Homo sapiens: one gene and its partner. The protein of the gene in region 1 purifies or fractionates together with the protein of each later gene. This does not show direct contact. Each region holds a gene or a part of one and is shown in the gene's direction. Other genes may lie near its edges. The genes, in order: PLA2G4D and GOT1.

Region 1 (3,824 bases):
CTGGAACTATTGTAATCTAAAAGACACAAACTTTACTAAGAGGTTAATCAAACAAGGGCCAAAGATTAGTAATAACAAAATAGCTAACAAAGGTCCTAGGAGAGGTAAGAATGAGGTGAGACTTGGGAAGGCATTTTTGATTATGTAACCAGGGCACTGATCCCAACTATATCTGTTGATGTGATGTATCACATTTATTGATTTGTGTATGTTGAACCATCCTTGCGTTCCTGGGATGAATTCCACTTGATCAATGGTGAATAATCTTTTTGATGTGTTGCTGAATTTCGTATGATAGTATTTTGTCGAGAACTTTTGCATTTATGTTCATCAGGGATCTTGGCCTGTAGCTTTCTTTTTTTGTTTGTGTCCTTATCTGGCTTTTGTATCAATGTAGTTCTGGCCTTGGATAATGACTTTGGAAGTATTCCCTCCTCTTCAATTTTTTGGAATAGTTTGAGTAGAATTGGTATTAGTTCTTTAAATGTTTGGTGGAATTCAGCAGTGAAGCCATCAGGTCCTTGACTTTTCTTTGATGGGTGATATTTTATTACTGCTTCAATCTCATTGCTTGTTATTGTTCTGTTCAGCTTTTCTGTTTCTTCATGGTTCAATCTTGGTAGGTTGAATGTGTCCAGGAATTTATCTGTTTCTTCTAGGTTTTCCAGTTCACAATATTTTCACATATATATCCTTAAGAAAAATATGATATTATTTGCATGAACAATTTTGTACAAGTCTCCTTGCACACCTGCATTAAAGATTCTCTAAGCCTCCAAGATACATACCCAGTAGTTAAATTGTTGGGCCACTGGGTTTGTGCACCTTCAACTTTCCTAGGTATTGCCAAACCATTCTCCAAAGGAGTTGTGTTAATTCACACTCCCACTACCAGTGTATAATAGTTGCTTTTTTCTCTATATCTTGGGCAGACTTTTAAAGTTTTGTTTAACTATGGGGTGTGAAAGGAACATTTATCATAGTTTTGCATTTCTTTGATTTTTAGTTAGACAGTTGATGTTTTTAAGTATATTTATCATTTGGGCTTCCTCTTCCATGAATTACCTATTCAAACCCCTTTCCATTTTCCTGTTTAATTTGTCTTTTTCATATTGTTTTGTAGGAATTCTTTATGTATTCTCGATGTGAATCCTTACCAGTTCTAATGGTTTTAATGCATAATTTCAATATAATCTAATTTATCATTCTCCTTTATGGTTTGTGTTTTGGGGAGTCTTCCTTTTCACTCCCCCAAAGTTATAAAATATCTTCCTATACATTCTTATAAAATTTTTAAAGATTTATTTCTTACTAATAGGACTTTAATCCACCCAGAATTTATCTCCAGGTATCATGTGGATAGGGATCCAATTTTGTTTTTTCTCACATTAATAACAAATTTTCCCAGTCTCATCTATTGAATTTTTTCTCCACTGATCTGCATTGCTAATTCTGTCATGTATCAGGTTTCATATATTTTTCATGTATTTATATTCCTGTGACTCTTCCTGAGTGCCCTATTCTGTTCCAACAGGACAGATTCTCTATCCCTATGCCAACAGCACACTGACTAAAGTTTTGTGATAAATCTTGGTATCTGATAGGCCAAGTTACCAGTCCACTTGAATTGTTCTTCAGAATTCTCTTGGCTGTACTTGACCCTTTGCTGTTTCCTTCCTTCCTTCCTTCCTTCCTTCTTCCTCTCCCCTCCCCTCCCCTCCCCTCCCCTCTCCCTCCCTCCCTCCCTTCCTTTCCTCAGAGTCTTGCTCTGTCACCCAGGCTGGAGTGCAGTGGCACAATATCGGCTCACTGCAACCTCTGCCTCCTGGGTTCAAGTGATTCTTGTGCCTCAGCCTGCCGCATACCTGCGACTACAGGCATGCACCACCATGCACGGCGAATTTTTGTATTTTTAGTAGAGATGGTGTTTCACTGCTTTGGCCAGGCTTGCCTTGAACTCCTGGCCTTGAGTGATCTGCCTGCCTCAGCCTCCCAAAGTGCTGGGATTACAGGTGTGAGCCACTATGACTGGCCTGCTGTTGTAATTATATGATAGAATCACCTAGTCATGTTTTGCAATAAATGTTGTTGGGATTTTTATTGAAATGGCATTGAATTTATGAAGCCAACTTAATTACTAGAAATATTTTCATTTTATTACTATGTGCTATGTAGTCTTTGGATCTACTGTTTAAGTTCATATTCAGTTTTGATGGTGTTGTGTTTTAATAACTGACTTTCCTGCTGAGTGGCAGCAATTAGTTACTACAGAATGGGAGAAGCTGTTTTAACAGTTCACTTTACAAGGTGCTAGAAAACGCAGTTTGATCCTAGGCTGTAAAGCAGACTTTTATTTAATTACCATTGGATACTCCAGTAATGACTTAATGCACGGTTTTATGTGCAAGCTTTATAGACATTTTTTAGAAGACATTTTTTAATTGTTCACAAAAATAGAAATGCTTGTGGTATTATTAGACACCTATATATTCTTAAAAATGAACCTGGACAACATAGTGAGACCCCATCTCTACAAAAAGTTAAAAAATTAGCTGGGCATGGTGGTGCACACCTGTAGTCCCAGCTACTGAGGAGGCTAATGTGGGAGGATAGCTTGAACATGGGAGGTTGAGGCTGCAGTGAGTTGTAATCACCCCACTGCATTCCAACCTGGGCTTTAGAGTGAGACTCTGTCTCAACAAAAGCACCTATGCTATTTTTAAAATTTTGTCCCAATATGAAAGGTTTTTAATTTATTATTTTTTTCTTCTGATTATCATACCTTACCTCTTAAAGCCAACATTCATTGTAGACTTTACAAAATAATGTTTTCTTCGGGCAATTTTAGTGTCAATTTCTAATTTTTTAAAGACTTTAGATAAAAACAGGTATTTATTACCTCTATAATGTAATAATCTAAAATACCAAAAATCACTTACAATGTCAGAATATATAACTCCATTTATGACCAATCACAATTTCATTAATATTAATAAATATCATACCCTGAAACTTTGCTCAGAATGACTTTATTAGTCTACATACATCTTTAATATTGATTAGGTTTTTATAAAAACCCGCTCGTAAAATACACTAGCTATAATCAGTGCTTCTCAAACTCTCATCTCTTCGAAACTTTTTTCTTCAGTCTTTTGCTGGCAAGTACTGAACTGCTTAGAAGCTGCTTATCATTCCTCAAGGAGAAACTCAGAGTGGTTCTCTTATCCTTTCCTGAGTTAAGAGCTGACACACTTTCCTTCCCTTTAGTCTGCATTGCCGGTACTGCACCAAGCTCCAGTGTTTCCCATGGGACCCTCGAATCATCAGAATGGTGTTCTGCAGGGTTGGGGTTACTTGCTTGGAAACTGGGGGGTTAGAGACTGAGAGTCCTGCCGCAGCTTACTGGTGAGCCATTAGATATACCGGGTGGGTTTCAGTAGATGGAGGGGTGTGCTGACCTTTTTCCAGAACTTTCCCTAGGGCATAAATTGTGCAACTATAGTAAAAGGACACATTTTCCCTAGTCATATGTATCAAAAGAGCAACAGAGTTTCTAAATAAAAAGATTTTGAGAAGGGGTCACGTACACACATTTGTACCTAAGGACTGACTCGTACGTACACCACCACCATCAGTGGCAGGGGATCGAGCCCTATTTAGAGATTTCCTGCAAATTCCCTGTAATTCATACTGGGGACCATTGGAAAATGGGGTGGAAGGATGACTGTGGTTGACACATGAGTGTTCTCGTCAGGGACAGAAGAGCTGCCAGCAAGGAGGACACACACACTGGGTGTGTTGAGTTTCGCCATGGATGTGGGAGA
Region 2 (3,824 bases), on another chromosome or scaffold:
GGTGGTTTATTACTATTACTGTTTAGAGGCAAGGAAGCCGAAGACTGGAGAGGTGAAGCAATTTGCCCCAGGTCATTTGACCACTGGGTGGTAGAGCTGGGAATCCAGGCCAGGTCTCTCAGGCCTCAGAGTCTCTGCCCACACCTGTATTTCAGGTACCTCCAGGTGGTAGCCAGTACACTGTAGTGGGAAGAGCCAGGAGACCTAGGTACAGGCCCAGCACCGTGGTCCAGCCATGTGACTTGGAAGGGTTGTTTAACATCCCTGGGGCTCATCTGTTAAATGAGGAGCCAAGATTGAATGACCTCTCTCCCAAATTCTACTCTTAAGATTCTACTGGGCCAGGCATGGTGGCTCACGCCTGTAATCCCAACGCTTTGGGAGGCCGAGGCGGGCGGATCACGAGGTCAGGAGATTGAGACCATCCTGGCTAACACGGTGAAACCCCGTCTCTACTAAAAATACAAAAAAATTAGCAGGGCGTGGTGGCGGGCGCCTGCAGTCCCAGCTACACGGGAGGCTGAGGCAGGAGAATGGCGTGAACCCAGGAGGCGGAGCTTGCAGTGAGCTGAGATCGCGCCACTGCACTCCAGCCTGGGCAACAGAGTGAGACTCCGTCTCAAAAATAAATAAATAAATAAATAAATAAAAAAGATTCTACTGTACTAAAAGTCAACTCCACAATTCACTAGCACATTCTATGACTGTAGCGTAGGATAATAATTTTACTGGCCTCATCAGTTGTCTGAGGATTAAATGAATAATTATATGTGAAATGTGATATATAAATGAAAAGTGTCATATATAAGTGTTATTTTTGATCATCACTGTGACCCGTCTTTTTGTGGATAGCAGGTGTTTGGATAAGGATCTAATTAGAGTAGAATAAAAGGTCTCCTTCCAGCCGTTATATGTCCTAGTCTTATTTATACACATCCCCAAGTATACCCCTTGTGAAGAAAATGTAATTAATCATTGACCTTAGGGAAGATACTTTTTTTCCCCCAAGTTAATATAAAACCTAATGGAGGTTATCTAGTTAATGTTCCAGTGATTTTGGACACGTTTAGAATAAACTGCACCTGTAATCTCAGACAGTTCCTACTTGCAGCTAGTTTCCTCAGTTTTTCTTCTTGCTGTGATGATTTAAATAATTTCCTTATAGGTAAACAGAGGAGAGTATCACATTTTCCACTGCTAAGCACAATGCTTTCTAAGTTGATCATTTTAGTGCTTCTCAAAGCTTCAGACTGAAGTGGTTTTAAGGACATGGGAAATGGATCCAACCTGGTGCAACCTGTAGCAAGAAGTTTCTTCAAAGACTCCAGTCCATTTTTTCATGTGAGCCTAGCTTTCTTTTGGCCCAGATAAACTCTGCTAGCTTTAATATTTCTTATTTTCAACATGGTTTCCTAGCATCTTCAAATAAAATAGTTGGGAAAATATGCTTTATCAGATGTTTCTGAGTACCCCTAGCCTTCTCCCCAGTATCCTAATAGGCTCTTGAGTGGGGATAGGTGAGGGAAGTGGCGATCTTAGGAGGAAGATGAGGGTGATGGTTTGACCATTTAAATCTGTGTTCTTTCTTCCTTTCCTTCTGCAAAGCAAGACTGCTGGGCCCACCTGTAGACTGTGTGACTCCCCTAAAAGGGTTTATGTCCAGGAAGAAGAGCAGTGGGGCATGGAGCTGGGGAGCATGCTGATAAAAAGGCCCCTGACATGGTCCCAGGGGCCTGCTTGCTTCAGGCTTTCTCTAGACATCTCTTGCTTTTAAAAAAGCACATGGATCCATGAACTTAATAGTATGACAGCCTAGCTCTTGTTATCTCTGTGATCCTGGGCAAATGGTTTGACTTTTCTGGCTGCAGCAGCCAGATCCTTAAAATAGACATCACAATATCTATTTTGTGGGTTGCTATCCAAATTAAATGAGAGTAAAGAAATGTATTTAGTGCAGTACCTTGTATGTACAAAGTATTTAGTAAATCCGTGTTGTTATTTCTCTGCCCTCAGGTTCCGTCAATGTCTTTCTCCATGCCCCAGACCTCATCTCTGAATGTCAGGCCTACAGTGGACACATCCTACAACTCCCTCAAATTCAGCATGTTCAAAGCACAGCTCATCATTTCCACCTTCCCCTTGATCTTTTCTTCTATCTTCCCCTTGTGTTCTAGGTCTTGGTCGACCCCACTACCACCATCCACTCATTATCCAGACTTGAGGGAGACCTTGGAGTCAACAGCAGCCCTTTCCCCAATCCCCTGTCTTTTTATTTGGTCAATAGGTTCTGTCTTTTCTACCTCGAATCTATTTCCAATGGCACCCCTTTTCTTCATCCCTGCTGCCATTGTGTGAATTCAAGGCCTCATTATTTCGCTTCTGGAATATTGCAGTAGCTTTCTACTCCTTCTACTTCTAGTAACTCACCCTTCTTAACTACTGTCTCTGTCCTTCTCTCTGGTTTATTTTCTGTGGTGTCACTCAAATGATCCCATTAAAATGTGCAGCTGCTCATGTTACTCTCTTGCTTAAATGCTTTCAGTGGTTACCCATTGAAACTGAAGTTCCCTAAAAGAGACTCCAGGATTCTTTTAGCCACTCCCAGCTAATCCTTAGTGGATTCCACATCAGAGTCATGAAAATGCAGATCCTCAAAGACCTCATGCTCCCCAGGCCTCTGGGGCCTTGCACAGGTGTGCCCTCTCGCATGCCCTTCTTCCCTTGTTTACCTTTTAAACTCTTATTCATCTTTCATTCTTCATTCTCTGTAAAATCTTCTCTGATTCCTCAAATTAGAATTAAAGGCTCTATCTATGCTCTGTGTTTCTTGGAGGGCAGATGGGATCTTATTTTATCAATCTCTATAGCTTCTACTAGCCAGTGCCTGGCTCATGGTGAGACTTAGTAAGTACTTGTTATGTGAGCGAGTGAATGAAAGAGTGAATGAGAAACTCAAGGGTCCAACAAATAGGAATAAAAATTCTTGGGGACAGCAGGAATAGTGGTTGTTGTTAATGCCTGACCCCACTGCTCCAGTCACCCAAGAGGAATCTGGTTCTGCTTCACTAGGGCAGTTAGGAGAGGCATCAGGAACAAATCTAGAACTCAACCTGGGAAAAACTGGGCAATGGAGAAGGAAGGGGAGTTGTAAATTGGCCAGTTTTTTTTTAGTCACAGTATAGACACAATGCCTCTCCAACCATCCCCAACCCAAGTAGTAGTATTGGAATTTTAGAGTTTCACAGAGTATTCAGTAGTGGTAAGAACAGCAGTATTCCAGTCTTTTCTTTCTCTTTCATATTTTATTTATTCATAGCACATTATTTGTGAATGACATATTATCATAAATATAAACACATAGCCTAATAATGTTATAGAATAGATATAACACCCAGACACAGAACTGAAACATAACAGAACTGGTTTTTCTATAAACATCCCAAATTTTTTTGCATCTACCTAGTATCCTTTGTAGGTAGTTCAAATATGCTTTTCTTGTTCCAAGATTTCTAGAAACCCCTTTTAGACTAGCTATCAAGGCATGTAGGACCCACACAAGGGATCATTTTTTAAAATAATTGTTCTCCGTAAGTTTTACCCAGCTTATTCACTCACTCTTTTCAATGGAGATGATGCAAATGCTATTCCCGAAAAATAATTGACTTTCAAAGGACAAAGATTTGGCACTATTGAGGCTATTCAAAATAATGAGATGTTGCCTCTAGAAACAATTCCAAAAGAAGTTTCAAGAATATTTTGAACAATGGTAACGTTGTGATCATAGATATGTTGATGTGCTTTAGGGACAACTCTTACTTGGAAGT

The links.
Region 2: the proteins of PLA2G4D (region 1) and GOT1 purify together in Homo sapiens (affinity purification with mass spectrometry; one large-scale study listed by BioGRID and IntAct). This does not show direct contact.

What each region holds. Positions count from the first base shown.
Region 1 is NC_000015.10:42,073,815-42,077,638, reverse strand, and holds part of PLA2G4D (cytosolic phospholipase A2 delta), read left to right. Parts: intron 1-3,824. UniProt on the Homo sapiens protein: Calcium-dependent phospholipase A2 that selectively hydrolyzes glycerophospholipids in the sn-2 position. Has a preference for linoleic acid at the sn-2 position.
Region 2 is NC_000010.11:99,424,084-99,427,907, reverse strand, and holds part of GOT1 (aspartate aminotransferase, cytoplasmic), read left to right. Parts: intron 1-3,824. UniProt on the Homo sapiens protein: Biosynthesis of L-glutamate from L-aspartate or L-cysteine. Important regulator of levels of glutamate, the major excitatory neurotransmitter of the vertebrate central nervous system. Acts as a scavenger of glutamate in brain neuroprotection.